Regions from separate parts of the Homo sapiens genome. Here regions 2, 3, 4, 5 and 6 are each linked to region 1. Evidence: fine-mapped expression QTL. A gene starts in region 1. Each other region holds a variant in brackets. All regions are shown on one strand. Distances are between the middles of the regions.

The links. PIP is the estimated chance that this variant, and not a neighbour inherited with it, causes the effect.
Region 2: its variant is fine-mapped to the expression of LRRC4 in blood mononuclear cells (TOPMed, PIP 0.91).
Region 3: its variant is fine-mapped to the expression of LRRC4 in whole blood (TOPMed, PIP 0.98).
Region 4: its variant is fine-mapped to the expression of LRRC4 in whole blood (TOPMed, PIP above 0.99).
Region 5: its variant is fine-mapped to the expression of LRRC4 in whole blood (INTERVAL, PIP above 0.99).
Region 6: its variant is fine-mapped to the expression of LRRC4 in blood mononuclear cells (TOPMed, PIP above 0.99).

The regions. Positions count from the first base shown.
Region 1 is chr7:128,029,435-128,034,434 of GRCh38, reverse strand. It overlaps LRRC4 (leucine rich repeat containing 4), which reads left to right and starts at 2,998. Exons shown (of 2, transcript NM_022143.5): 1 at 2,998-3,522; 2 at 3,695-5,000. The coding sequence starts at 3,795. All of the region lies in intron 16 of SND1 (staphylococcal nuclease and tudor domain containing 1), which reads right to left. RefSeq lists silencers at 1,715-1,784, 2,435-2,554.
Region 2 is chr7:128,001,496-128,006,495 of GRCh38, reverse strand. All of the region lies in intron 16 of SND1 (staphylococcal nuclease and tudor domain containing 1), which reads right to left. Among named protein-coding and RNA genes, the nearest start is that of SND1-IT1, 6.5 kb to the right of the region's middle. The variant ATT/T (reference allele first, on the strand shown) is at 2,239.
Region 3 is chr7:128,154,068-128,159,215 of GRCh38, reverse strand. No RefSeq gene overlaps it. Among named protein-coding and RNA genes, the nearest start is that of MIR129-1, 51 kb to the left of the region's middle. The variant C/T (reference allele first, on the strand shown) is at 1,995.
Region 4 is chr7:127,763,955-127,768,954 of GRCh38, reverse strand. The region is part of intron 10 of SND1 (staphylococcal nuclease and tudor domain containing 1); the gene reads right to left. Among named protein-coding and RNA genes, the nearest start is that of SND1, 110 kb to the right of the region's middle. The variant T/C (reference allele first, on the strand shown) is at 2,357.
Region 5 is chr7:127,546,991-127,552,138 of GRCh38, reverse strand. The region is part of intron 1 of LOC105375490 (a long non-coding RNA gene); the gene reads left to right. Among named protein-coding and RNA genes, the nearest start is that of GCC1, 36 kb to the left of the region's middle. The variant C/T (reference allele first, on the strand shown) is at 2,779.
Region 6 is chr7:128,111,928-128,117,075 of GRCh38, reverse strand. No RefSeq gene overlaps it. Among named protein-coding and RNA genes, the nearest start is that of MIR593, 33 kb to the right of the region's middle. RefSeq lists enhancers at 182-698, 699-1,215. The variant G/A (reference allele first, on the strand shown) is at 2,144.

The sequences.
Region 1 (5,000 bases):
CTCAGGCAATAGATGACTCTACTAGGTCGGTGCCAGCTATAAAGGAGCAGAACCTCTCACCAGAAAGTCTGAGTGCCCAGATGGAACTAAACCCCAGTATCAGGGTTTGACTTACCTCCATGTCTCCCTCATTCTTTTTCTTGATGAGAGTTCATTTTCTCAGCCCGTCTCCTACCCTTCATCTTACTTCTCTGACACATCCTTCACTGAACTTTCCTACAGTCTCTCTCTCCTCCCCCCTCCACTTGCCTCCACCATTTACTCTATGAAGAGTAGACACAGCGGGCATTCCTGTTAGTGATGAAAACATCGGACTCAGGGTTTGAAGGCTGGATGGAAAGGCTGGCTCTGTTACTTTCTAGTGTGTGACCTTGGGCAAGTTATTTGCCTGCCTAAGCTAAGTGCCTTCATCTGTGAAATGGAGACAAGTGTGGCAATTACTTTCACTGGGTAAATGAAGATTAAACAAGAACAGATATAAGTTCTTGGTATGGTGGATAGTACATAGTAGATAAGCATCCCAGTAAATGACTATTGAAGTGGATGAATGAAACCTGAGTTCTCATCCCACTAGGAGAATACTTTGGGGAATCACTTCCACACCCAAGTTTCTTGACATCTGAGACGTGCTGAGGCTCAAATCCACTATCACTTACTAGTGACCCTAGGCAACGTTTGACTCATATAAAATGAATAATAGGGTTGCAGTGGAATACAGAGTAAGGGTTCAATAAACAGAAACTAACAAGGTTATTATTTGACAGCAAATGATAACAGAAAGGTCTTGGCAAAGAATGGGGACTCCAACTTGCCTACAAAGGAACCGTTTCCAGGACTTCAAGTATTCCATGGCGTATTTAAAGAGGTTCAGGTTACTGGGCAAAAGACAATACTCAGAAATAGGTGTGGTAGAAACCAGAGAGCTGAGAAATCTGGGACCTCCTCGTTCTTAAGCAACAGCCCACGCGCAGGTGATGAGGGTTTATCAAGCGAGCCTGCCAGAAATCACACGGGGAGAGGGGTGGGTTGAGGAGTCTGGAGGCAGCTCTTGAAGGGAAGGGATATTAAACCATGCTATATTCTACTGGACCGGCTTCCCAGGGCTCAGCTAGATTGCCTCACCCACAGTCGGCAGAGAAAGGGGCAGTCTTTTTTCAGGGGGGTGGGAAAAAGCTGACCTAGTCCCCTTCTCCTACACTAGTCTGTCAAATGCCTTAGGGTCTCCTACCAGAAATAGGAGCAAGAATTCCACCCCCACTCCCAATCGCTACCCCTGGCTGCTACGCAGTTCTTCTCAGAGTCCTAGCCAAGGAAGGGCTGGCGAGCTCACAGGGCAGGGGGCTCAGCCGCCCGCCTCCCTTCCCCCAGTTCTCTGGGGGCAGCGGGGAGCAAGGGGCGACTCCGGCCAGCGAAGACTGAGAAGCCGCGGCTGCAGCTCCATGAATGAACGGGCTGTGTCGTGGGCTCCGGGAGTTCACCTCAATCCTTCCTGCCGGCCTCTGTGCTGTCCCAGGTTGCCATTCCCCAGCTCATCACACTTGGTCATTCCTGCCACTGTTTCCCGCCCCCGCAACCCTCATTAAGGAAACCCTCATTTAAAGCCCCAGTGAGAGCACAGGAGGGGTGAGGCAAAGCGAAGGAGGGGCTGGCGGCAGTGCAGCAGCGAAGCCCGGGCTCTCGGTCCTGGGAGCCTCGTGGCCCCGGCCGCCGTCCCCCGAGTCCCCACCACGCAGTTCCGAACTCCGAACGCGAGTCCGCGCCCCGTCAGCAGTCAGCGGGGGTGAGGATGACGCGGGCCGGGCGAGAGGCAGGCCAAATGCAGCAGCCCCGCCGCGGGCCGCCGGGCCCCTGAGCCCCGCTCTTCAGAGCCAGGGGGCCCCGGGTGCGGGCCGGAGGGCGGGGGCCGGCGCGGGCTCTCCCGCCGCAGCCCCGCGCCGCTCCAGCCTATCAGCGGCCACCCAACTGCTCCCTCCGACCGGCCCAAAATAGCTGCGAACGCCTGCGACTTGCGCGCGGCCCCTCACTTGACGCTCACTCCGGCTCGCTCGCCCGCTCGCCCTGGCCCCGCTCCGCTCGTCTAGAGGGGGCGGGGAGGAAGCGGCCCGGGGAGGGGGGAGGGGGGAGGGGGAGAGAGGAAGAGAGGAGGAAGGAAGGAGGAAAGAGGAAGACGGGCGGCCGGAGGCGCGGGGCTGCGCGGCGCCGGCCGGCGCGGCGCTGGAAGGCGCCGGCGTTAACCCCGCGAGGCAGGCGACGGAGGGGGAGCGGCGCTAATACATAAGAGCACTGCATCACGCTAATCTTCTCCCAGAACAGTATGCGTCAGCAGTACATTCACGTTCTGACTGAAGGACAAAAGGATGAGAGAGCAGTCTGCGTGGCTGCCGCCTGCAACACCGCGAGCCCGGCGCGAGGAGGAGACGGTGGGCGCCGCGCGCAGGGGCCCCGCTGCTGCTGCTGCCGCCGCTAGCCAGCGGGGACTATGTTCCTGGGCTCCGGAGCGTTTCCCGCAGCCGCGACCCCCGCTGCTCACGCCGCTGCAGCAGTCCGCTGGCGGCGCGGCCACTGAGGGCGCCGGGAGCCGAAGCCGCGAACTCGCTCCCTCCGCACAAAGCCGGAGCCGGCGGCGCGCCGGGGGCCGGGCAGCGGCGGGCGGCGACGGGCGGTTGCGCGCCGCCGGGGGCTGCGGCCGCCGCCGCCGCCGGACCCGCGCCCGCCCCCGGACTCTCTGAAGGGGCCTGCGGTGCGGGCGCGACCGCGGGCGCCGCGCGCTCCTCCGGCCGGCGGACCGGGTCCGAGCGCAGCCGCCACGCCGCTGGTCCTCGGGGGCCGGACGGAGCGCCGCCCCGCGTGCCGGCAGCCGGCGGACTGGAGAACTGACCCCCCGTTTTTGTCTCTTCCACCCTCCGAGAAGAGGCGAGGAGAAAGGGGGTGTGTGTCTGGGGAGGGCGAAGGCGCCGCGAACACCTCCTCTTAACTCTCGCCGCTCCGCGAGCTCACGACCGCAATCAGCTGCCGCCGGCCCGGAGCGGCCGACGCCGGGAGAGGGAGCGCAGCATCCAGCGAGTGCGGCCTGGGCGGCTTCGGGGCGCCCCCGCACTCCCTCCGGCGGCGGCCCGCAGAGCGGGCCGGGGCCGCCGGAGCGCACTTTGGCGATGAAGCGCCTTCCCCCGCGGCTGGAGCGAGCCGGTGCCAGGGTCCAAGGACAAAGCCGGGAAGCGCTGGTGGCGCCGCTCCTTGGGCGGAGGGGGGGGCATGCACCTGCATAGCCCGCCGGGCCTTGGCTCTCCCAGGCGCGCCTCAACTCCGCGGCTTCGCCGGCTCCGGCTCCGGATTTACTAGAGGCCATTTTGTCTCCCCCACCCCTTCCCTCCCCTCCCCTCCCCTCCCCTCTGCCCTCCCCGCCCCCACCACTTCCCCCTTTTGTTAATTAAAACTAAGAAGTCGGAATGGGAACGAGGTGCCCAGCTCCCGTGGAGAAAGCTTAAGGACACCACGCCAGTGCTTTCCTGCCTTCCTTCCGAGGTAGGTGACGGCGAACTGGGTGGGGACGGTTGCAGTGTGGGAGAGTCGTAGCTTTCGGAGGGCTTGCCTTGAGGGTGGGTTGGGAGACCAGGGGCCGCTCGAGTTTGGCAGGATTTTTTTCGGCCGATCCGCTCCGTCTCTCTAATCGCCCCCTCCCCACCTCCTTCTCCAGATGGAAAGAGGAGCTCCTAGCTCACTTAAGCCGGGGTAGGGCTGGTTCTCCTTTCCGAGCCAAAATCCCAGGCGATGGTGAATTATGAACGTGCCACACCATGAAGCTCTTGTGGCAGGTAACTGTGCACCACCACACCTGGAATGCCATCCTGCTCCCGTTCGTCTACCTCACGGCGCAAGTGTGGATTCTGTGTGCAGCCATCGCTGCTGCCGCCTCAGCCGGGCCCCAGAACTGCCCCTCCGTCTGCTCGTGCAGTAACCAGTTCAGCAAGGTGGTGTGCACGCGCCGGGGCCTCTCCGAGGTCCCGCAGGGTATTCCCTCGAACACCCGGTACCTCAACCTCATGGAGAACAACATCCAGATGATCCAGGCCGACACCTTCCGCCACCTCCACCACCTGGAGGTCCTGCAGTTGGGCAGGAACTCCATCCGGCAGATTGAGGTGGGGGCCTTCAACGGCCTGGCCAGCCTCAACACCCTGGAGCTGTTCGACAACTGGCTGACAGTCATCCCTAGCGGGGCCTTTGAATACCTGTCCAAGCTGCGGGAGCTCTGGCTTCGCAACAACCCCATCGAAAGCATCCCCTCTTACGCCTTCAACCGGGTGCCCTCCCTCATGCGCCTGGACTTGGGGGAGCTCAAGAAGCTGGAGTATATCTCTGAGGGAGCTTTTGAGGGGCTGTTCAACCTCAAGTATCTGAACTTGGGCATGTGCAACATTAAAGACATGCCCAATCTCACCCCCCTGGTGGGGCTGGAGGAGCTGGAGATGTCAGGGAACCACTTCCCTGAGATCAGGCCTGGCTCCTTCCATGGCCTGAGCTCCCTCAAGAAGCTCTGGGTCATGAACTCACAGGTCAGCCTGATTGAGCGGAATGCTTTTGACGGGCTGGCTTCACTTGTGGAACTCAACTTGGCCCACAATAACCTCTCTTCTTTGCCCCATGACCTCTTTACCCCGCTGAGGTACCTGGTGGAGTTGCATCTACACCACAACCCTTGGAACTGTGATTGTGACATTCTGTGGCTAGCCTGGTGGCTTCGAGAGTATATACCCACCAATTCCACCTGCTGTGGCCGCTGTCATGCTCCCATGCACATGCGAGGCCGCTACCTCGTGGAGGTGGACCAGGCCTCCTTCCAGTGCTCTGCCCCCTTCATCATGGACGCACCTCGAGACCTCAACATTTCTGAGGGTCGGATGGCAGAACTTAAGTGTCGGACTCCCCCTATGTCCTCCGTGAAGTGGTTGCTGCCCAATGGGACAGTGCTCAGCCACGCCTCCCGCCACCCAAGGATCTCT
Region 2 (5,000 bases), 28 kb after region 1:
ACTAATACATATTTGCCATTCGCAATGCACAGTTTTTAAAATGTGCATGTAAGTGTGTGGCAGCTAACTGTCCTATTTGGGAGGTGGGGGGAGGATACCCCATTACCTTTCCCCAAATGAGAGTCAAGAGACTGTTCCCAGTGAGGCTGGTCAAAACACACATGCACGCACACACACACAAGGATCCACCATTACCTTTTCCAAGTGAAAGTCAAGATACTGTTCCCAGTGAGGCTGAACACACACACACACGCACGCACGCACGCACCCTTCCCATGCTTGTTTCTCTAGGGCAGAAAAAGAAGCTGAGAAGAACTGTCTCCACTCTACATTCCTGGTGGATACAGAACCCTCTAAGAACAAGAACACTTCCTTCACCCACAGCCCTGCTAAGGCCAGACCCTGGGCACCTCACATTCCCCCAGGGTCAGCTGAAGTTACTACTTGAAGGCTCATGAAGGGAATGACAAACCTTTGCACCTTTGGCAAAAGCAGAGCCAGTTCACAGGGGTCATGGACTTTTCACTCAGCACACTCATTTTACATTCTGTGGAAAAAGATAACAAAGGAAGGCTGTGTCCTTTAGAAAAAGGTCGGGGGCTGGGGGTGGGGACTTGAGAAGTGCTGGGGGAGACTGCAGCTCCATCAGCTGATGCCGTATTGCCTCTGCTAGAGAGCCCAGCACAGGTGGGGAGCTCCTCAAATAAAGCAAGCCTCGGAGTTGGAGACCAGGCTCCACAGCAGTTTTCCTGTTCAGTACCTGCAGTCTCCTTCTTCACCCAGCTTTGATTACAGGAGTCAAACACAGTGGTTCTCTCATTCCTATCAAAGCAGGTTGGAAAAAGAAGTAATCCCAACTGTAAATCAGCAACCTAACAGGCATTGGGAGAGGTCACTGGTGGCTTGGTAGGAAATGGATAGCTCATGACAAATGAATTGGTACTGCCTGCCATTTTTTCTTGCCATCACTTGAATCAATAAGGGAAAAGGTGAATTGCTATTGATCTCTTCAACACCTTTCAACGATACTGTACAAATTACAGAAACACAAGGGGGCGGGTGAAAGAATGAAAGAGGAAGGACAGATGAAAGACTGTCTGGGCGGTGTAAGCCTGCATGTATTTCCCTGGAGGCAGTCTTCCAGTCACTGGGTGTTAGGCATGCGTGGGTGCACATGTGAGTGTGGCATGAAGAGCCCTTTCTCACACCTGGAAGGGCTGAAGGGCTGGCTACGGAGGGCCCCTCTGCACCTCACATGCTGGCAATGCTCCAACAGGGCTACTTCGCTTGATACAAGGCTAGATTATTGAGAGGTGCTGTGAATCCCAAGGCCTCATGAATTTTTGAAGTTGTCACACGTTAGTGGTGTTGGGATAGGCTATCTCAACAACTGACTATAATTCTGGACAGGAAAGCAAGAATCAAAAGCTTCAAGGGCAATCTCTAGCTATACCTTACTAACCTCACTCCCTGGCTGACATGCCCAGAAAATATAGACAGACAGCAAATAAGGCAAAGCTATCTTGCTTCGTACTTGAAAATAACAAAGATTACGGCAGCTAGGGCACAGGCCTGTCCTTTTAAACACTCTGGGCAAAAGACATGGCATGAATATCAGAGGCCTGGGTCCAAATGTTAGAGGTCTGGCTGTAAACCTAGGGTGAAACGGATACTGACCACACAGGCAAGATTGCAAACTCTATGTAAATACGGCCTTATGCAGACAACCAGGAAATAAGACACACGGTTATGATGGCTGGGGATAACAACCCATAACACAAAGATGAACATCTGATGTCTGTTTTCATCTTTAGCTCAGGAATAGTGCAACCAGAGCGGCAAAGACTGAAGGAACCCCTAAGTCCTCTGGGACAGATTCTCTTTAGGATATGCTGCTTATCAGAAGCCAAAGTCAGTACTCTACTCATGTCCAGAAAAAGGCAATGCAAAAGATTTCATGGCATAGAGAAAAGGAAATATTGGCCAAAGTTTAGTCCAATGGGGAACATCATGGTCAGATCTCAGGGTCCCAGGCCAACAGTTCTCCTATTCTACCAACTGGGCATAATTATTCAGTTGCTGGTGACAGAAAAAAATGTTCTGACCAGAGGTCCCTCTTCAGGTCACACAGCACTCTTAGTGCATCATCTGGGGTCTGGGTGTCCTTAGAAACCTCCCCACCACACCTGAGTATTCACCTTTTAGCATTCTCTAGGCAAAAGAGGGCTTAGTTCTTCC[ATT/T]TTGCAGCTGGCAAAACCAAGGCAGGCAGTCACTGACATGTAAAAACAATGAGAGCCCTTCACAACGCTCCTGGCACCCTTGCTTAATCTCCAGAAACTGACTCAGGGTATAACTGTATCATTCAGAAATCAGTTGATATCACAGTTAGCCAGTCTACCCATCTTCCTCCCACAAATACATCAAGGGCCAAAACATAGGGCAAAAAAAAAAAAAAAAGAAAGTAAGTTACAAAGCTGCTGATGTGTTAGAGTGGAAATGCTGAGATTAGGAGGAGGAAGTGGTTAAGTGCACCCTGGGTGTTTGGAAATGGCCACGTCTGCAGCCCTGGAAGCTGATGAAGAAGGAGCTCTAGCCCTCTCTGCCAGGCAGGCCACGAGACCAGCCCCTCACTCCAGAGGTAGGGAGCTTGGCTGTGAAAGGGCATGATGGTAAGATACAGCTATTTAGCAAACACCAGTCCCCTCCCACAAGGCATCTTCAATTCCAAAAGTGACCCTATTCTAAAATTACCAAGTGGCAGGTGGCCAGGCCAAAAATCCATATCCAATCAGTGCTAATGGACTGTTTGTTGCATTTCCTCATATATGGCTGCAGCACTGCTATGAAAACCCTGGGTCGGTGGTTTGAGATTTATTTAACTGGAGAGGTAACGGCACCCCAGCACCGCAAGCATTATAGAGATGTGTGAAGTGAAATGGCACATGCAGGCTGCTGGTGGGGAATGGAGGGACCTGTTGGTCTTATTTGCATGATCTTCCACCTCTAGCTGTACACCCAATGCCAAATCCTTTTCTGGTAACCATTAAAAAGAATTCGACTGCATCAAGAGAAGGGAAAGGGGAGAAGAGGAAGGCATATGTTAAGCTGAAAAGGAAAACAGCACAGTGAAGCAGTTTCCAGTTCCTTCTTTCATTCTCGGTTCAAGAGGTACCTGTTCTTGCTACAGTGACCCAAACGCTTCTTCTTGGAGGCCTTTTCCTATCCTTTTCAGTCTTGTTTAACACCTAGATTTTTCTTTTTCATTTTCATTTTTTTCTTCTTTTTTTTGGAGAGTCTTGGCTCTGTTGCCCAGGCTGGAGTGCAGTGGCACGATTTCGGCTCACTGCAACCTCTGCCACCAATTCTTGGCCTCAGCCTCCTGAGTAGCTGGGACTACAGGGATGTGCCATCACACCAGGCTAACTTTTGTATTTTCATTAGAGACAAGGTTTCGCCATGTTGGCCAGGCTGGTCTTGAAATCCTGGCCTCATGTGATCCCCCTGCCTCGGCCTCCAAAGTGTTGGAATTACAGGTGTGAGCCACTGTGCCCAGCCTGTGTTACCACCTAGTTCTTTCTTTAGTGCTTCTGCTGGCACTGTGCTATCTATCTTCCAACTCTTCAACTTAATGCAGGTCAAGGACAAATCTATGGCAATCCTGGATTGTTGTGGTCATGGTAGGAAAGTATGGAGACACAAAGGAGCACTGCTATTCTGTCAGAGGATAAGGAAGCCTGTACCAGCCAGGATCTAGTTAGTTCATACCCGTATCCCTCATTTTCAAGTTGCTGTGACAATGTCACAGAGGACCTGCATCAACAGAAAAAGCAGAGAGCCCTCACTGTTGGCAGATTAGTCTCCAAATACCCCTATGGCAAGTGGAGAACACTGCAAAGATGGTCAAACCATTATTCCTTAGACATCCATGAGGTATGTGTGGAGTCCTGGTGTCACCCCTCCCTTGGTGATCACCTTATCAGTCCATAGCCAAGTCTAGAAAAGGCATCTTGCATAGGTTAGGACTTGCTGGCATTATCTCCAGACCTTTGGTTTTCCACTGAATGTAATACTGCCTAATGTGTGGGACCATGAGGAATCAGAGACAAAGAGACCTTATGTTATTTTACTTCACAGAATAAAAGACTGGCTGATGTCCTGAGGGTACTTAAATAAATAATCCTTTGCAAACTTAGACCAAGGATGGAAAATAGGTTTCCGTTAAGTGCCAAATCCTCTCAACTGGTAGTAGTAGCGAGGATCCCTGTTTTGAGAAGGATCTGAGCCCTCAGCCAAAGCAGCGCGGTGACTGACTGGCAATGTCTGCCATGGGTGGACAACCCGAATAGGGGTAGCATATGCATATGTGCCATCACTGGCTTAGACAGGCTGGGGGAGTGAAGAGCACTGGGAGGGTTGTTCTTTGTTGATTCTAATCTGAATGCTGCTCACAACACACATACCTAGATCCAGCCTAGAACTCTACTCTGGTTTTGTACATACTGAAGTTCAAGTCCTAAATTTCAGTTAAGCCCTGAGAGAATTTCTTTTATTTTTTTTTGTTTTTGAGATGGAGTTTCGCTCTTGTTGCCAAGACTGGAGTGCAGTGGTGCGATCTTGGCTCACCGCAACCTCCGCCTCCTGGGTTCAAGTGATTCTCCTGCCTCAGCCTCCCAAATAGTTGGGATTACAGGCATGTGCCACCATGCCCAGCTGATTTTGTATTTTTAGTAGAGACGGGGTTTCTCCATGTTGGTCAGGTTGGTCTTGAACTCCCGATCTCAGGTAATCGGCCCACCTTGGCCTCCCAAAGTGCTGGGATTACAGGCGTGAGCCACTGTGCCCGGCTGAGAGAATTTCTATTAATAATAAAAATGATGCTGTAAGCTACCATTCACTGAGTGTTTAATATCTTGGGTTGTGAGGAACAGTTTACACATACACTTAATTTTCACAGTAACCCTAGTGAGAAGGTACCCTCCTTACATAGGTGAGGCAATTAG
Region 3 (5,148 bases), 120 kb before region 1:
TCCACTCGCCTTGGCCTCCCAAAGTGCTGGGATTACAGGCAAAAGCCACCATGCCCAGCCATTGACCCACCTCTGATTTCGGCCATGGCTGTGGTGGACAGTCCCGCATGAGCACAAATTCATCGCTTGCCATAAGTCGCCCCCTTGAAGCTTGTGCACTGACAGGTTTTCATTTCCTGCCCCGGGTTCTTCTCCAACTCTGTGTGAGCCCTCTTGGAAATGACAGGAGAGAGTCCTGGAGTAGTCAGCCTCCTTGTAAACCCAGCAACCTTAGTAACACCCCCTTCCCTTCCACGGGCCTCTCCTCCTTCTCCATCTCTCCCCATTTCTGTACTCTTGATTTCTGTGCTTGCATCTCCAATACATGACCTGTTCTCAAGTCTTTAACCCATACTTTGTTTTGGGGGGACCTAACTTTAGACAATAAAATTACATGGTTCTACGAGAGGGTATGACAAGGGGATTGAACCTGGTTGGACTTCCTAAGGCCTCCTTAGCAAGGTCTTCTTAGGAGGTGATCTAAACTGAAGAGACCTGAAGAATAGCTAGGAGTTCTCCAGAGGAGGAGATGGAGGATGGATGTGCACAGAGCCCGGATGTGCAAAGGCCCTGAGTCCACACTGGGCATAGCATCTTTGAGGAGCTGAACAAAGACCATGGGGGCTGGAGCGATCCCTTGGGAGGAAGAGTGAAAGGAGGTGAGACTTGGATGCAGAGCAGGCCTATCCCGGGGAGCCTTGCACTGTTGAGAACTTCTGATCTCATCCTAAGACAATAGGTAGCAACTGGAGGGTTTTAAACAGGCATGAAACAGATTCATACATTTTTTAAAGATCATATTGGCTGCAGTGTGCAGAGTGGATGGGAGCAGGGGAGAAATGAGACAATTTGAATAGTTCAAAGGCTGATCAAATAATCCAGGGACAAAAATCATGGTGGAGGGAATGGAGGGAGGGGCAGATTCAAGGAGGAAGAATTTGGAGCACTCAGTGTTGGGTTAGATGTGACAGTGAGGGAGAGGGATGAGACAAGGAGACCCTCGGACTTTCAATTTGAGAAAGTGGGTGGCCACAGTGGAAAATACTGGCAAAAGCATGGATCTGAGAAAGAAGACAAGCAGTTCTATTTTGATTTAGTTTGAGGTGTCCCTGAGAATACCAGTGGAGAGAGCCCCGAAACAGTTGGAATGCTCCGAGGGATGGTAAGAGACAACTCCTGCTGGCCTCAGAGGATCGCTTCCCCACTTCTTATAAATCAGCCGTTTGCCACTCAGCCCAGTGCGGAGCTTGGAGATGCTCCTTTCTAGCACGGCCACTTCCTTGACCAGGGAGCTTCCACTGTCACAGGGCTGCACAGATGTTTCTGCCCACCCCACCCCCGGCTCTATAAATAGGTACAGTAAGAGAAGAGTCCCTCCCAACCAAATGGTTCCAAGTCTCATCTTTAGATGTCTCCATCAGTATCTGTGAAACAGAGTCTAGGAAAAAGACTAAAAAAGCTATCTTTATTTAGCCTGGAGAAGAGAAGGAGGGAGAGCTGTGATTCTGCTAGGAATAAACTGCTGCTCTTATCTTTTCCTCCTAAGAAGGCCCGAGGAGGTGGATTTGGGATACAGTTAGAGAACTGATTCTCAAGGGTGGAAGATTTTTGCTCCCATCCACTCCCACCCTGGGACATTGGACACCGTCTGGATGCATTTTTTGGTTATCAGAACTGGTGGTGGGTGGGTGTGGGGTGCTACTGGCACCTGGTGGGTAGAGGCCAGGGATGTCTGGGCATCCTGCAATTAATAGGACTGTCCCCACGACAAAGAATTATCTGGCCCCAAATGTCAATAGTGCCCAGGCTGAGATACCCTGAGTTGGAGGAATCTTAGTTACTTAATTTCTTTTGAAACAAAGAGCAAGCAGTCCCTCCATCCGACTTAAGGGAAAGGGTATTTTATTTGCATGTTTGTTTAGGGTTACAGGTGGTTGGGAGCTGGGATTAAGACA[C/T]GACAGCAGTCAGGGACCCAGGTCTCTCAGCCATAATTTCCTTGTTTCTGTTTCTCTCTTCTCACTGCTGATTGGCTAAACCTTTAAAAATTCTAAAGAAAGCAACCTGATAGACTCAGCCAATCATCACTGCTCCCTTCAGAGACACCATCATAGGCCACCTTCTTTCACTCTGGCCAACCGGTGAATAGAAGAATGCCTTTTGGTCAGCAGTCCACCTCTCTATCCAATTAGAGGCCACTCTTCTGCAAGGAACAGTCTAGACACCTTCCCTGGATGGGAGACTGTGAGCAGGGCAGTGTAAGTCACAAGAAAATGTTGGAACCAAACACACCAGAGCCGGCATTTACATTGGTCTTCCTGGCACACAGCTATCTTTTTCTTGCCATAGCAAAGATAGGGCTGAATACAAAGCTCTGATTTTCCTTCTTACTCCAAAGCTGCACTGTCCTATATGGTAGCCACTAGCTGCATGTGGCTATTTATTTTATCTTATTATTATTATTTTTTTGAAACAGGGTCTCACTCTGTTGCCCAGGTTGGAGTACAGTGGCGTGACCACAGCTTGCTGCAGCCTTGACCTCCTGGGCTCAAGAGATCCTCCCGCCTCAGCCTGCCAAGTAACTGGGACTACAGGCATGCACCACCACACCTGGCTGATTGTCCTGATTTTTAGTAGAGACGAGGTCTCACTGTGTTGCCCATGCTGGTCTCAAACTCCTGAGCACAAAAAATCCTCTCACGTCAGCCTCTCAAAGTACTAGGATTACAGGCTTAAATCACCACGTCAGGCCACATGTGGCTATTTAAATTTTAATTATTTAAAATTAAATAAAATAGCAGGGCACGGTGGCTCACACCTGTAATCCCAGCACTTTGGGAGGCCGAGGCGGGTGGATCACGAGGTCAGGAGATCGAAACCATCCTGGCTAACACAGTGAAACCCCATCTCTACTAAAAACACAAAAAATTAGCCGGGCGTGGTGGCGGGTGACTGTAGTCCCAGGTACTCCGGAGGCTGAGGCAGGAGAATGGTGTGAACCTGGGAAGTGGAGGTTGCAGTGAGCCAAGATTGTGCCACTGCACTCTAGCCTGGGCGACAGAGTGAGACTCCATCTCAAAAAAAATAAAAATAAAAATAAAAATAAATAAATAAATAAATAAAATGAAAAATGCAGTGCCTCAGTGGTATTAGCCACATTTCAAGTGTTCTGTAGCCTGGTGTGGCTAGGGGCTACCACATTAGATGGTGCAGAGAATATTGCAATTATTGCAGAAGTTTCTGTTAGACAGCACTGATGCAAACAAAGATACTGACCCAACTGGACATGAATTGAAAAGAGGTCTTAGGGTTAGCCCTGAAGAACATCGGAGTCGTCTTGGATTCATTCACAGTCTTTAAAGCTACCATGTGTGAAATGTGTGCAACTGTTTGTTACGGAGTTCATGTCTCAGCTTGGTATGTCCCCAGCAATTATATGCCTCTGCTCACTGAAGCAAGAGCTTGGAGGATAATCTTACCTGAGGAGGACTGCGGTAACTTACCTATTTAGAAGGGTGCTATACATGTTTAAGAGCAAAGAGTAGTTGAAGAGCTACGAATAGTGCATAATCAGCTTTTCAAACACCATGACAATAGATGACACACAGGAATTTACAGCTCAACTGAACAAGAGCACGTGACCAGATTGTTAGCCACAGTGACACAGGACTTGTGGTGGGTGGCTGTGGAAGCACCTACAAGATCTTACTTTCCCAGCTCCCATCTTTCTCGCCCTCTCCTCTCCTACCCCGGTCTTGTCTTGCCTCTAAAGGGAATGCATTTTCTTCCCACTGTGTGGTTGTCATTACTGCCGTTCATCAAATACTCCCAGCCCTCTCCTCTCTGCCTTCCAGGCACAAGACGGGATTGCATGGCCTGTCCCTTGTGATTGGGGCTGGGCCCACATCACTGATCTGGTTGGCCCCCTGCACTCCTCCAGCTGCTGATGTGAGAACATCCAGAGGTCTCTTTCCAGCACGGCAACCGGCAACATTCAAGATGCAGCTGCTCCACCGTCCTGAATCCCTGAGTGTCCCCGTGTCCGATGGCCCTGTCAGCCCCTGATGGAGGTGTAATGACAGCATAAAACAAACCTGGGTTGTTTTCAGACACTGAGATTTGGCTATTGCTTTGTTTTGCAGCATAATCTAGCCAATCTGGCCTGGTGACTGAGCCTTTCAAATAGTTACACCCCAGCCTTACCGTGTGTACATTGCTGTCTGTTGTATTTATTAGCTGAGGCTGTTTCCTGTTACTTAGAAAAATAGGTGAGTTGAAACTTTCTGTATTTGTGACAGTCACTAAACTTGGATGTTGACATGACTAATCTTTTTTGTTAATACAGATTGGGGCTTTTTATACTAGAAGAAAGGGGCCCCTTCACCTGCTGAGAAGGGGAAACCTTTCTTCCTTACACTGGTTAAGTTGCAGCTGTCTCCTTGCTTCCTTGCATAATGACCTTAAGGCTGACAACACATTTGGAAAAGGAACTCCTGGTGGTTAATAACAGCAGTGAATGCAAGAGGAGAGTAAAACACTGAGGAGGAACTGATGGGATTTTTTTTTTTCCGAGACAGAGTCCAGCTCTGTTGCCTAGGCTGGAGTTCAGTGGCATGATCACAGCTCACTGCAGACAGCCTTGACTCCTGGGCACAAGTGATCCTCTCACCTCAGCCTCCCAAGTAGCTGGGATCACAGATGCATGCTACCATGCCCAGCTACTTTTTGTATTTTTTGTAGAGACAAGGTTTCACCATGTTGCCCAAGCTGGTCTCCAACTCCTGGACTTAAGCAATCTGTCCACCTCGGCCTCCCAAAGTATTGAGATTGCAGATGTGAGCCACCATACCCAGCCGGAATTGATGGAAATTATTTCAATCTAGGATACAGAAGTCTCCCTTCTAGGGAAATAGATACACAACTCCTAGGCTAAGAAAGGCCTCATTCATTCATTCCTCAACAAACATTCATTGAGCATTTAATAAATGTTCTGCCCAGATGGAGCTTATGTCCTGGTGGGGGTGTCAGACAATAAGCATGAGGACAAAAGTGCAATGAAGGAAATAAACAGGGACTGAGACAGAATGGCTGAGGGAAGGAGTGGACAGGGAA
Region 4 (5,000 bases), 270 kb after region 1:
GGAAATAACTTTAAATATTGATGGTTATCCATCCAGCCCTGTCCCCTCCCAATTGTACTTAAAAGAGAAAGGACTTGACTATAAACTGTTCCTGATCCTAGACAATGCATCTGACCATCCTGAAGCACTTCAGTTTGAATAAAACGACACTAAATGGATTTTCAAGAATAATTTTCACTATATACAATTTTCGTCTCATACTCTGACCTTAGATTCTACCCCTGGGTAAAATATAATTCTATTGTAATTTGTCATTCTGATATTTAAATAAAAACCACAACTCTGCTATTTGATTAGCTATAGATAATATGAGCACCATCTATACAAGCTGGAAACCTGAGAAAAATGGCTCTTCCAACCACAGGGATGTTCACACAAAGACTCATCGTCTCTAAATTTTTAGTCAGTTTTATCCCTTCATTTGAAAACATTCCTCAACTATCAAGATCATAGAAAACCTCTCTGTTCCATAAAAGTCCCCAGTGATTCAGACGGCTATACTGACAAGGCCACAATTATAAATGGAAATTATGAACTTACATAACAAAGCAAGTTTGGTGGCCATTCTGAGTCACTGAGCATACCCAAAACAGGTATTTGCCACTCTAATCCCTTTGTAATCCTCTCCTACTTGTAATTCTGCCTCACAAGTTTGTTATAAGGGAAAAGTATAAGGACCTTTGAGAATGAACAGTGAACAAGATAGAAAAGTAGTCAGTTAAAAGACAGATTTTGATTAAAATCAGAGAACACAAACATTGCCTCTAATAACGAAAGATGGAAGGTGACAGGCCGCTAATGAGGTGGTGAGAGATAACCATGGCAGCTCACCCCCACCAACCTATTCTATGTCCCAGATTATGCTGGCTAAAGAGCTGCGGCATATTCAATTATCAAGCCTAGTTTTACCAGGGGCTGACAGGTACGTATGGAAAGGGGTTGAACAGAATGAACGTTCTAAAAATTAGGCTTCAGATGGTGCCTAGTCTTCTTCTGTGAATGTGTTTATTCTGCAGCCCCTCTTTCCACACCAAAACCAATGCTTCAAGGCCTAATATAAACTGCAGGGTTTGAGGGCAATTCCTAACATGCGTACTGATATACCATATATGTCTGGCTCTACTCAGAGGTAAGATGTATCTATATAAGATTATAGAATTTAAGGAAATAAACATTTGCTCCATTGATTCTTTAGAATGAAGGAGAAAGGGAAATGAATGACATTTACAACCTTATATGACACTGCTATCCAGAGACTGTGTTCTGGTCCCCAGCACTGATCAATGAAGAGAATTAATAGATTTGTTAGAATCATTATTAGAACCTAAGAGTTATTAGAACCTCATTAGCAGAGTCCAATTACAGACAAAAAGCCAAGCTATTTTAGCTGAACATTCATACCAATGGAAGAAAATAGAACCTTCTTAATCACTTTCATTATCAAAACAGACTCCCTGCTGGAGCCTTTTAATTGGAAGTCTACCATTTCAAAGACATTTGCATTTTATCAAACTATATTGACAGGGCTAATAGAAATAGATTCGAGGGCCTAGCTTCACATCTCCCACATATAAGAAGGCAGCTGTGGTGATCTACTGAAACAAAACAGGAAGACCAGGATAGGAAGCTGGGCCCCCACCATGCAAGCATCTGGTTGGAAATCTCACCACACTGTGAACCAGCTCTTCTCCTCTTCATGTCTACTACATTAAACAGTGGAAAGGGATGGGGGAAGGGATACTGAGAAGAGGAGAACGGCACCACACCTAGTCATTACATATAAAATGTCCCAAAGATAAAGGAATGCCATCAACAAATGAACAAAAATGAGAAGTAGGATGAGTAAGTGACGATTAAGTTTTGCAAGCTAGCCACTTTGTACCCTAGATATATCTCTCTCTCTTCCCATCTAACACACACTATATCTAAACATCTAGGGTGCCACAGTGTTATTGCCATGAGCTGTATTTTGTTATTTATAGAGGCTATAAAAGTACACAGCACTTTACAAACCACAAAACGCAGGCACCAGAGCCTGGAGGAACTCAGCCTAAATTACATACAAACAGTGGTGGGGAAAACAGAAAAATACATAGTTGCACCAAATTTTGGCAATAGCAATTCTGGGAGACGGTAAGATAAGAAAAAAACTATTTTTTTTTTTTTTTTTTTTTTTTTTTTTTGAGACAAAGTCTCGCTTTGTCACCCAGGCTGGAGTGCAGTGGCGCCATCTCGGCTCACTGCAAGCTCCGCCTCCTGGGTTCACGCCATTCTGCCTCAGCCTCCTGAGTAGCTGGGACTACAGGTGCCCGCCACCACGCCCGGCTAATTTTTTGTATTTTTAGTAGAGACGGGG[T/C]TTCACCACGTTGGCCAGGATGGTCTTGATCTCCTGACCTCGTGATTCGCCCGCCTTGGCCTCCCAAAGTGCTGGGATTAAAGGCATGAGCCATCGCGCCCGGCCTAAGATAAGAAAAGAACTATTAAATAGTAACCAGTACAAGGGTCCACACAAAAGAAAATCAACCCATCAGAATCCAAAGCTTTAACTCCTGGAAAGCAAAGAGTTGATATCATCACAGCAGATCTATGGCAAGTGCCACCTTTGGCATTGTCTTAGTCCATTTATGCTGCTATAACACAATACCTGAGACTTGGTAATTTTATAAATAACAGAAACTTAACTTCCTCACAGTTCTGTAGGCTGGGAGTCCAAGATCAGGGCACCAACAGGTTCGATGTGTGGTAAGAGCTTAGTCTTTGCTTCCAAGATGGCACCTTGTTTGCTGCATCTTCCAAAGGGGAGGAGTGTGGCGTCCTCACATGGTAGAAAGGATGGAAGGGGCAACAAAGAGCCCAAATTCCCTCCAACAAGCCCTTATATGTGGGCATTAATCCATTAAACTTTCCCAAAGCCCCTACCTCTCGGCACTGTTAACACTAGAAATTAAGTTTCCAGCACATGAATTTTAGAGGACACGATCTGACCACAACAGCCATCAAAAATGAATTTTGGTTTTCTAATCATATGATGCCATGTTCATCCAAGGAATATTAAAATGTGAATGCCACATAAACATCTAAATGCTTATAAAGAAGAAATGAAAAATGGGTCAAAATATGATCTTATAATAGGTGTGGGAGTGCTGCAAACCTATTAATTATATTAAGTTCAGCCCATTCAATTGATGGTTACACAATGCTCATCAGCTAAGGGAGCCATTAGATCCTTTATCTTTCTTAATTGGAGGCCTTAATCTTCTAAAACTTCTATAAAGGAAGAATTTCCAAGAGTCATAGGGAGCTAAAATACAAGAAATTCTCTCCAGGCCTCAGCCTCGAAATATTTAATTGAAGGATTTAAAGCTTGGTCCTTACTTCAGTACTCTCAGCACTTACAAGAGATTGAGAAAAATGGACAGACAGATGTTGTTAGTATCAAGTTTTACCAATTACTAAGGGCCTAATGTTGCCACACGATTCTGTGATATTTTACTATTCTCACTGTGCACAGAGCTTAAGGGGCTTCCTCAAACACAAAGAAGATGTCTGAGTGAGACATATGTCTGAGTGAGACGTGCCAATCACAAATACTTGCATGAGGATCTGTATTCTAACATATCACCACAAATAGTCAAAACCAGCCAGGTTCATTTTTTTTAAATGCAAATCAGAAATGCTCAATGGTTGACTGTTAAATGAAAATCTGCAAGATTCTGGGCAATTCCTCGACCTCTGAGCTCACTGAGGGTAAACATCACAAAAAGTCTCTTGTTGCTACTTTTCTAATAAAGACCACTACAGAGTCCAGTGGCATCATGGTGTGTTCCTAGATGTCATTTGTAGTCAAAATTGAAAATAATCACCTAACTGATTCTGATGGTCTTCTCATAAATTCCTCTTTAGTCTCCCAAAGAGAATGTTACCAACTCGTTGCAAAAATCAGGCTTTAATCTCCTCCCATTCATCAACAGCGACACCAACCCCCATCTCTATTCAAGGGGGAAACCATCTGCAATAGTTCCGCCCGATTTCCCCTGAAATTTTAGCTTCCACTGCCTGGTTTCTGAACCCTCAGCAATGGGAGCAATTTACCTCGATCGACTTCACCAGTCACTGTTGCAATTTAGCTAAGACATTTCCCAGGGGCCCATTAGAAAAGGTTCCAATTTGAAAAACTCACATCTGATCCTTCAAACCAGTCCTGGAAACATTATTTGGTACCAAGTTAGACATTATTCTTTTTCAGATTCCAAATCCTTTACTTTGACACAGAAATGCAAATGGGAAATTTAAAAAGACAGCATTTCTGAAAATCAGCTCAACGAAAACTCAAATACACAAACATTAAAAGATATTCTGATAATAAGCACAGCCTGCCACATCGGTGTCAAAGTTCTGATTTGGTTTGGTTTTGTTACTCTACTCTATGCAGGCAAACTAAAGATGGCAGCCTAGGGCAGAGGAAGCCTTCAGCAGCATCTGCAATACAGCAACACCACAAACTTAATGAGCATGGAGTTCCTTCCAGAGTTAAGGACCATGAAAAGCCAAATTGCACTATTAAAATACTTCGCATTCACACACACACTGTACCTACTCAGTGGAGCTAACCAAAAGAGATGTGGAAGTGGAAGTACACATAATGTGTGGGAATGGCCACAGGGTAGGTGATAGCTCCTATGGCAAAAGAAACAAAAAGTGTTTTTTATTATCAATAAGTAAAAAGTCAATGGCAACCTTCAGTTTGCTCTTATGAAATCGCTAATATTCAGTTTAGAATTACATACTATCCCATAAAAAATTGTATCATTATTTGAAATTAATAGGAATCAGCAATGTATGTCAGTAGGTTTCAATTTATGCTTTTCTTTCTCTTGGGTTTTTTGTTTTTTTGTTTTTTTGTTTTTTTTTTTTTTGCGACAGGGTCTTGCTCTGTCACCCCAGCTGGAGTGCAGTGGCTCAGTCATAGCTCACTGCAACCACCTCAGCCTCCAAAGTAG
Region 5 (5,148 bases), 480 kb after region 1:
TGTGCCTCAAGGCCACCACATTTCTCTCTCCACCCTCTTGCATCAGAGTCCAGACCAGCAAACACATTCAGGAAATCATAAGAAAGATAAAAAGCCTACAATGCTCCAAGGACGAGTTTTTCTTTTTTCTGTTTTTTTGAGATGGAGTCTTGCTCTGTCACCCAGGCTGGATGGAGTGCAGTGGTATGATCTCGGGTCACTGCAAGCTCCGCCTCCTGGGTTCACACCATTCTCCTGCCTCAGCCCCCCGAGTAGCTGGGACTACAGGCGCCCGCCACCACACCCGGCTAATTTTTTGTATTTTTAGTAGAGATGGGGTTTCACCGTGTTAGCCAGGATGATCTTGATCTCCTGACCTCGTGATCCACCCGCCTTGGCCTCCCAAAGTGCTGGGATTACAGGCATGAGCCACCGCGCCCAGCCCAGTTGTTCTTTTTTAGAGTGTTTATGGATCCAGAATTGAGCTGGAGAGTTGAGTGGTGGGATCATTAGGGAAGCAAGAGCCTAGGAGAGCCAGAGTGACAAGATTTTAAGTTCAGGGTCATCTTGAAACTAGCAAGACACATTCCTTGCCAGTCATCACCAATGGTCCTAAGATGTTTATAGTTGAGAAAACCTACAAGGACACATTCCTACAACAGAAAGTCCAGATGTCCTAATACCCATAACAATATATGCTTTCAAGATAATTATATTTATGCTTTGATGTACTCACCCAGTGAAATGTCAAAGATAGTTTTCTTTAAATCAGTGTAATAATACATTTTGTTATGCTCTCTGCTCACCTGCATGTAGTCACAGCTTAGTTTAGTCTGTACATAGACAAGACCCCCATATAAGAAAAACTTAAAACAGAGATGATGTGTTCCTTGGCCTGCTTTCTGGAGATGCCCTACTCTGCAATGGAGTAGTTTCTAATAAATTTGCTTCTTTCACTGTGCTCTGAAACTCGCCTTGAATTTCTTCCTGTGTGAGATCCAAGAACCCTCTCTTAGAGTCTGGATCAAGACCCCTTTTTCCTGTAACTGGATGGAAACCCACATAATACAATTTATTTCCATATATGGTGTAAAGTTATCTAATTCCAGCATTTCATTGCTAAATATGTTGAGGTTCTGACATTAGAGGCTCAGGAATGTACTGATGAAGATAGTCAGATGGATAACACTGGCTATTTCCCCTGGTATATTAAGCACAGTTTGTTTCTGAGGTATCCAGTAATGATTTGAAGTGTGCCCATGAGCAGCTTTGGGCTCAATTCTGGCATTCATGTCTTAATTAGGTGGGTTTTGACTCATCATGATTTAGTTACCCATTTTTCTTTAACAGAGCGCCTTATTTATTTTATGCAATTAGAAGGGAAATGACAGAGAAGACCATTAACTCTACCTTACTGTACAAATCCCAGAAGTAATTAGGGACTTACATAAACAGTGCATCTTAAATTATTTATTTGACAATCTCTAATAACAATGCCAGCAGTGTCATATACTTTATTCTTCATTAAAGCAAAAGTGATTATCCTGCTATATAACCTAATCATCTGAAAAATTTAATTCCCATAACAACATTTGTTATTACTGTTTTGTTTTGTAGAAGGGCAGATGAAAGACAGAATTTTGACACATCAAATTGGACTGCAGCACAAAAGCCAAAATAAGTGTTTCTTCCACTAGAGGGCTGGTGCTTGGTCTGTTTTGGAAAGTCCTTCCCCCGGATGGTAGCAGGTGATGGAGTTGGGCAGAATCTAATTTTCAGCAAGTTTTAATTTTTTCACTGCCTGGATGAATTCTAGAAATAAATGTTGCATAAGCTAATTTTGGTGGGGTTGGAGGGTGGTCCTAGAAAGATGATTGATTTGATAAGATAATTTGAGGGGATTTTTAAACTTCCATTGAGCAAACAATTCAACATTTACTGGAACCCTCAGATCTGTGAGGATGTGGGATAGATGACAGATACCAAGTTAATAAGACATTGTTTCTGGCCTCAATGAGCCTGGGCTACTAGTCATCAATGTTTCCAGTTCTCCTTGGGCACTTGGTCACCTGCCTGAAGTTAGGCATGGTTATATCTTTTGCTTTGACTTATAGGAACTGTTATGGACTGAATGTTTGTGTTTCCCCACCTTAAATTCATACGTTGAAATCCTAACACTCAATATGATGGTATGAGGAGGTAGAGCCTTTAGGAGGTAATTAGGTCATGAGGGTGGAGCCTTCATGAATGGGAGTAGTGCCCTTATAAGAAGAGTCACAAGACATCTGGCTTCTTCAACCCCCCCACCTTTTTCCCTGCTGTGTGGGGATACAACAAGAAGTCAGCCATCTCTAAACCAGGAAGAGAGCCCTCACCAGACATTAGATCTGCTGGCACCTTGATCTTGGTCTTCTAGCTTCCAGAATTGTGAGCAATACTTGTTTGTTGTTTAAGCCACCTAGGCTATGGTATTCTGTTATTGCAGCCTAAACTAAGACAGGGACCCTGGGGAAGATTCCCCTTCCTTCTTATCTCTCTCCTAACAAGTAACCAGTGAGTTTTCTTTTTACTGCATCAAATCTAGCCCATCCTACTTATCACAGAAAGTAAGATAGACTTCCCATCAAACCTGGTGATGGACAATCAGTGATGGACAGATGCAAAGCACAATGATCAGCATGTAACAGGTCTCAGCAAAGGGTATTTTTCTTCCCACTTTCATTTAAAAAAACTAATGAATTTTTAAAAAAGCTGAATCTGTGTGTATTTTTCCTACAGCAATGTCTAGAAATGTTTACA[C/T]GAGAGAGTTCTTCATTTTAGGATTGGGTAACAGCCAGTATAATTTTACAATTACAATATGTGATAGAGTCTGCTAATTATTTCCCAGTATTTATTCACCTCTTCTCCCTTAGCAATAGCATCTCAGGATTTAAGTGGGCATACTGCTGCCTCAAGCCAGAAGGCATTTGCCATGCTCCTTTGCATTACCAAGTGACTACTAGACAATGAGATATTGCAACAAAGTGTTGTATGGGATTTCTGTGAAGCCTCTTTTTAAGGGAGGGGGTACCTCTGTTTTTTCTTTTGCTCTCTTCTCTTGCCTGGGATGTAGATGCAGTGGCTGAAGCTCTAGTAGCTGTTTTGGACCATGAGGATGAGGGCCCCATATGAGGGATGGTGGAGAGTCAGCTGGAAGGTTCCTGGGTCCTTGGTCACTTAGTGGAGTGCCTTACAAGTCATGGACTGTCTACTTGTGGATTTCTTTGATGTAAGATAAATAAATTTCTAATTTGTTTCAGCCACTGTTTTTTAATTAAAATTTTTAATTTTATTAAATTTATTTTTTGTAGTAAAAATAATATAAAATTTACCATCTTAACCATTTTAAGTATACAGTTCAGCAGTGTTAACTATATTCATATAAGCTACTGTAGTTTTTTTAATTATATGGAACCAAAACTAATGCTAACTAAAACACAGTGGTTTTTTTTTTTTTAACTGATCTTCAATAAACTAGTTAAATTAACAGACTCTCCATCTCCTTAGTAAAGTGTGCTAATCATGGCCATCACATGCATACTCCCAGCTATTAAACTGTTCTCTAGGACAGTGGATCTCGATTTACATGTGCATCAGAATTACCTCGAGATTTTCTGATTCTGTGAGTCTGGAGTGGGGCCTGAGAACTTGACATTTCTGATAAGTTCTCAGGACTTTGATGCTGCTGGTCTGGGGACATACTTGGGGAACTACTGATCTAGGACACCATAGCCTTTGGTTTTTATCAGCAGAGCTGAATGTTAATAGGAAGCAATTGTATTTGTTCTTACACTGATTATGTGTATTGTATTTCTGATTGTCATTGTGTAATTTAACTAAATACTACATTCATCTATGAGAATTTAGTTGAAAAAATATTTGTTTCTATGAAAACTAAATCAAATACTTTGTAACAACTTAATGTAGGTATTCATTAAAATAAAGCTACCAAGTGAGATTGGTAGGGCCACTGTTAAATATCAGAATAAATATCTATCTATCTATCTAGATATATCTATATATCTATATCTAAAGCAATTATACACTCAAGTTGCTTTAAAAAGAGACTTTAATTTATTGTTTTACTTTAAATAAATTAAGTCTATAAATTGTAAATGATGTGTTAATGCTGGAATGAGTTAAAACTTTGGTGGACTGTTGAGAAGGCATGATTGATTTTTGAAATGTGAAATGGAGATGAGATTTGGGAGGGGCCAGGGGCAGAATGATATGATTTAGTCAATAAAGACAATATAGAACTTTAATCAGTGGATCCAATCTTTAAAAAAACCCCTTTGGAAAGTTGGCAAATGAGTGCATACTTAAACATTTTAAATTAACATTCTAAGTTAAAATAAAATGTTTAAATTAAAATATGCCTGGTGTGTTCTTTGCTTCCTTACTTTTTCAGTTAACTGATTGCTTAGCCTGGGTTACTATAATAAAAATGCAGAGCATATGAAAATGGCTTATGTGCTATTACTTTAATGAGGAATGCTATTTAAACAGAATGAAGAAAAGGGGAGGGAGAGCTAACATGAGAATGCTGAATTGCTCTGGACTGCACTTAGATTCACATGACTGATTTACTGATCTTGTACAACTGTTTCTGATGTGGTTTGGCTCTGTCTCCCCAGCCAAATCTCATCTTGAATGTAATCTGAATTATAATCCCCAGGTGTAGAGGGAGGAACCTGGTGGGAGGTGATGGGATCATGAGGGTGGTTTTCCCCATACTGTTCTCATAACAGTGAGTTCTCATGAGATCTGATGGTTTTATAAGTGTTTGGAAGTTCCTCCTTCATTGCTGTCTCTCCTGCCCCCTTGTGAAGAAGGTGCCTGCTTCCCCTTCTGCCATGATTGTAAGTTTCCTGAGGCCTCCCCAGCCATGTGGAATTGTGAGTCAATTAAACCTCTTTCCTTTATAAATCACCCAGTCTCAGGGAAGTTCTTTATAGCAGTGTGAAAACAGACTAATACAGTAAATTGGTATGTCAGAGAGTGGGGTACTGCTATAAAGATACTTGAAAATGTGGAAGAGACTTTGGACTGGGTAACAGGCAGATGCTGGAACAGCTTGGAGGGCTTAGAAGAAGACGGGAAAATGTGGGAGAGTTTGGAGCTTCCTAG
Region 6 (5,148 bases), 83 kb before region 1:
CCCTTTGTGGCTGGCGAGGCCGGACGGTGGTGCTGGCCGAGGACATGGGGCGTGGTGCTCTGTGACATCCAAGGCTGGCTGCCAGACAGGAGTGAGTGGGCTTGGATGGTCCCAGGACACTGTGAGGTCGGGACACAGGCTGCAAGCACAGGCCTCAGGGGTCTGGCTTGGCCTGCTGCTGCCCTCCTGTCCTGCCTGGCCTTCCCCACCCCACACCAGCCACAGCTGTCAGGCGTGACAGGAGCCTGTGCCCTTGCCTTCGCAAGGCTGCATGGCCATGCTGGGTGGGACAGCTGTGCCCAGCCTTGCTGTCTGGGCTGCCCACCCACAGAAGGAACTTGCCCAGGTGGTTTGAAACCCTTCAAAAATGGCCCCTGAGGTTGTGTCTATTGGTCCTGACAAAGAGAGGCATTTTGGTGGGGGGTGTCCGTGGTAGGCAAGTGGCAGCCAAAACCTCGGCTCCCAGGCCTGGCCAGCAGCCCCTGCTGCACTTGGTTCCTCTCACCAGAAGCCTGGGCAATTCTGGTCAGGATGCGGCCCTCACTGCCCCATCCCCCACACTGCGAATTCCCCACATGCTTCCCTTCAAGCTTAGGGGCCGCGTGGCGAGAGGGCCGTCGCCCTGCGGGACAGCGGGCCCATCTGTTGATTCCTCTCCATCTGTCTCTCTAGGGTCCTTCTCTTCTCTGCCCTTCAACATCATTTTCAGAAGAGCATTTCCTCCGCCTCCGTGTCTAGCCCATCTCCCCTGGCCTGGCATCTGCTCTCAGCTCCAGGTGCCTCTGTTGGTGTTAGTCCATTTAGATTGCCTGGAGGTGTCTCTCTTTGTCTCCTTCCCAAGGCTCTCTTAGTCTTGCCTCTAATGCTCCCACCTCCAGTCACTCCGGGGGAATCTACTGAGCACCTAGCAACAGGCCTCAACACTCACCAGCTGTGTGGCCTTGGGCAAGCTACTCAACCTGTCTGTTCAGATGCCCCACTCTCCTCGCCTGACAGTCTTCCAGCCCAGATGTTCTGCCATCATCCTATCTCCTCCTGCATTTGCAGAGAGGGGCAGGAGTCCAGGGAGCTGGGGGCTTGCCCACTCATGCCAGCATCAGAGATCTACAGGAGCTGATTCCTCCCTCCTCCCCATGTCTGGCTTTGGGGCGCTGAGATCCCTGGGAAATGGCAGCTCAGGAGGGGTCTTTCTGTTTGGGAGCCATTTGCCACCCAGCCTGGAAGGAGGCTGCTGGGGAGGGCTGCTCCCTCCCAGGAAGAGCCAGTGAAAGAACAGCCGCTGTGGTCCCTTGGTGGCAATGGGACAGTTGCAGCTTTCCACAGGGTGGATCATCAGGAGAAGGACAGCAGCAAGCCCAGGAAAGCCCAGGCAGCTCAGCCACCCTTTTCATTTATTCAAGCCCTTGCCATCGTGCCAGGCCTCGCAGGTGTTTCCTGGGAGATTCTGGTGTCCCTTTTTCAAGGGACATTTGGCTGGGAAGTTTCAAGAGTCCTGTCAGTACACGATGCTATGACTCACTCAGCTATTTCCTATGTCCCTCGGGCTACCCTAGCCAGACCAGAAGCTTCCAGAAGGCGGAGTCTATGCCACCCCATCCCTGAATCCCCACAGTCCCCGTTTCCTGGGAATGTGGTTAGAATGACTATCTGCCGATGTCACCGACACGGAGGTGACTGTGGACACTTCAAGACTCTTGTCCATCTCTAGAAACTGGTGGTCCTGGAAGTGGGTCCACAAGACCCGTAAGAGCCGGGAGAATGAAGTCACCACTGTCACTGCTGTCCCCATCCCTTGCTTTCTGAGATGTGACTTCCTATCCTCGCTCTACGGAGAACAGCTGGAGCCATGCTGAGCAGTTCTAGGGGAAGACAGGACAGGCCGCTACCAGCCCCTTGTGAAACACTGGAGTTCAGGAGGAAACATGGAAAATGAACAGAGAAACATCATCCCCCACTTTGAGCTTCTCTCGACAGACACGCACACCCTGCACAGAACTGGGCAGGGAGCAGGCAGGCTGGACACAGGGAGGGAGGAGCCAATGACAGTCACTCCTAACGATGCATGACCACTGAGAGCAGACACTCATGGAGCCCCCACTGTGTGCCAGGCACTGGGCTCGGCATGGTTTCCCCTGTTTTTCAC[G/A]ACAACCCCGTGAGACAGATCCTTGTATTATGATTCATATTTTATAGACAAGGAAAAATGAGTTGCTGAGAGGGTAACTCTATCAGAGACACACACACAGCAGCAAGTGGCAGCACCAGGACTTGAACCTGGGTGGTCTGACATGACATCAGCCCTCTACCACCATGTCAAGAGCAACCTTACCTCACACCTAACACCGGCACTCAGCCCCACCATGCCTTTGGAATAGCGTTCTGCCAGTGCTAAGTGTGCAGTCCCATATTGCCCCAGGCTCCCTGGGCAATTTGTCTCAGTCAGCTCTTGGCTTGATAAGGCTGTGTAATAAAGCACTCTCAAAAATCTCAGTGGCTTGCAATAAAAAGCATTTGTATCACGGGTCTGCAGGTCAACTGCAGTTTGGCTTCATTTATTAGCCACCTATTATGTGCCAGGCACTGTTTTCTGTCGGACCTTCAGGATTGAGCCATCCAGCCATGGAGATATACATGAAACTAACAATAACGAGAAATGCAGGCACTGTGACAAAACCGTGGAAAGTGCTAGGGAGACCCAAGGAGAGGGAGTGGCCAATTCTTCTCTGAGAAGAATTGGGGATAGAGAGTAACACACAGGCTGGGCTTTGAAAATACAGTAGAATTTCAAGAGACAACGAAGGTGGACAGGGTGTTCTAGAAAGTGGGGACCATGTTTAGCAAAGGCATAGGGTGCAAGAAGAAATGAGGAGCATTGAGTGGGCTCCATGCAGTCTCCTTTGCTGAAGAACAAGGTGCGTGAGCAGGCATGGGTGAAGCAGGAGGTTGGCCACAGATTAGAAAGGGTCAGGCCCAGCAGTGGGAGAAGTCTTTGAACTTTTTTAAGCTGGAGAGTGGACTGACTAACTCCCAAAGGGGAGGAAGACAGCGACTGAAGGCAGGAAGATGGTGAGGAGACTTTGGCGGTTCTCCAGGTAAGAGACGTTGCAAACCTGAAGCCAGCTGGACCAAGGACATGGCTCAAGTGGGAGCCTGGGTGTGCATGATCCCAAGGTGAGGGGGCCAAAAGGTCCCCCTGAGAGTTCATGCAGTGTGTGACAAGAAGCAATTAAGGAATATTTCTGTGAGGCTCATATTTTGACTATCTTTCGAAAGAGGCATTATTAAAATGTTTTCTCATCAAGGGCAGCAGAATTGAGATAAATCCACATCCTAACCCCTACCCCAGGTGGGTGTTCTGCAGAATCCTCACTTACCCAATTCCTTACTAAAATGTTGGTTCTTTGTTTTGTTTTGCTTTAAACCAGATTCATTCTTTTAAAAAAAAATTTAAATTTTTGTGGGTACGTAGTAGGTGTATATATTTATGAGGTAAATGGGACGTTTTGATACAGACATGCAATGTGAAGTAAGCACATCATGGAGAATGGGGTATCCGTCTCCTCAAGTATTTATCCTTTGAGTTACAAACAATCCAATGACACTCTTTATTTTAAAATGTGCAATTCAGTTATTACTGACTATAATCACCTTATTGTGCTATCAAACAGTAGGTCTTATTCATTCTTTCTATTTTCTTTTGTACCCATTAACCATCCCCACCTCTCCCAACTCATTTTTTTGGAGGCACACATAATACATGCTGGACACACAGGCCCACCCAGGGTCTACTCTCTGTGGATCACAGACTGTGCCCGCAGAGAACCAGCCACAGCGAGGGGTCTGCACGTGCCTCCCCGCCAAGTGCAGACAGATGGCCCTGGGTGCCCAGCTCTGGCATGGCACTCAGAATGTCCTTCAGCAGTGACAGTCAGATGCTCAGCACAGACAGGAAGCAGTCTGGGGCTGCATGACCGAGCCAAGGACCCACAGGGAGCCCAGAGGAGTCAGAAGGTCCTCATACCCTTTCCCTAGGCTCACTCCGCAGCCTGTGCTCCCCACATTGAGGCCACCCCAGCCAGATCTGAGGCAAGGCCACTGAGCAGACAGACACCTGCCTAGACATGAGAAACCCACCAGAGTCTGAGAAACTCACGTGACCAGCTCATGTCAGGAAAGGGAGGGTGCTGCTGCAGCTGGGAGAGGTGCTTATTTTTAGCCTGCTTATTGGCTGGGGCTTTGCAGACTAAGATGAAGCTCCTGCTCCTCACTGATGCTGTTATTTCTCCCCACCGGGGCTGGGAATTGGTTTATCTTCCAGGTAGCCACCTCAGCAGCCGCCCGCCGCAGCAGCAGGCCCCAGGCAGGTTGCTGTGTGTCTATTATTTTTGATTGCCCGTCTTATGGGGCATGAAATCACTTCTGGGAGGGTGTGAGCTTGGCACTGCCCTCGCTGCCGCTGGAGAGGGAGCAGGAGGCAAGGTCTCCTGAGGGTGCAGCTGAGGGTGTGGTTACAGCCAGGGGTCCCGGGGCCGTGGGCACTCCTACACTGCTGTGGGCCACGCCTTCTGGCTCTGAAGGGGCTGAGTGAAAGGAAGCACCCGAGGGAGGCGGTAGGAAGGCTTCAGCTGGGAGGCAGGGCATCGACTTCCAGCACCGTCTCTGCCCTGGCTGGTGCTGCTGTGCGCCCAGCCTTCCATGCCCAGGGAGTGCTGATGTAGTTTGGTGCCTCAGTTTCTCTTTTCTGCAAAATCAGCAGGGCCATGTTCTCTTTATGGGAAAGCTCTAGGGAAGAATTGCTTACCTCTTCTAATTTTTGGTGGCTTGTGGTGTTTCTTGGCTGGGGTTGCATAACTCTAAATCTCTGCGGCTCTGCCTGCCTTCCTCAGACAGTCTTCTCCCCTGTGTCTCACGTCGCCCTTTCCTTTCCCCTGTAAGGACAGCAGTCGCTGAATTTAGGGCCCACCCTGGATCTCATCTTGAAATTCTTATGACTGTGGTCTGAATGTTTTCTATACAATTCATACATTGAAACTGGATCCTTCGTGTGACAGTGTTAGAAGGTGGGGCCTTTGGGAGATGATGAGTTCGTGAGGGCTCTGTCCTCATGGCATTAATGCTCTTATAAAAGGGACCCCAGACGCCAGGTGCATA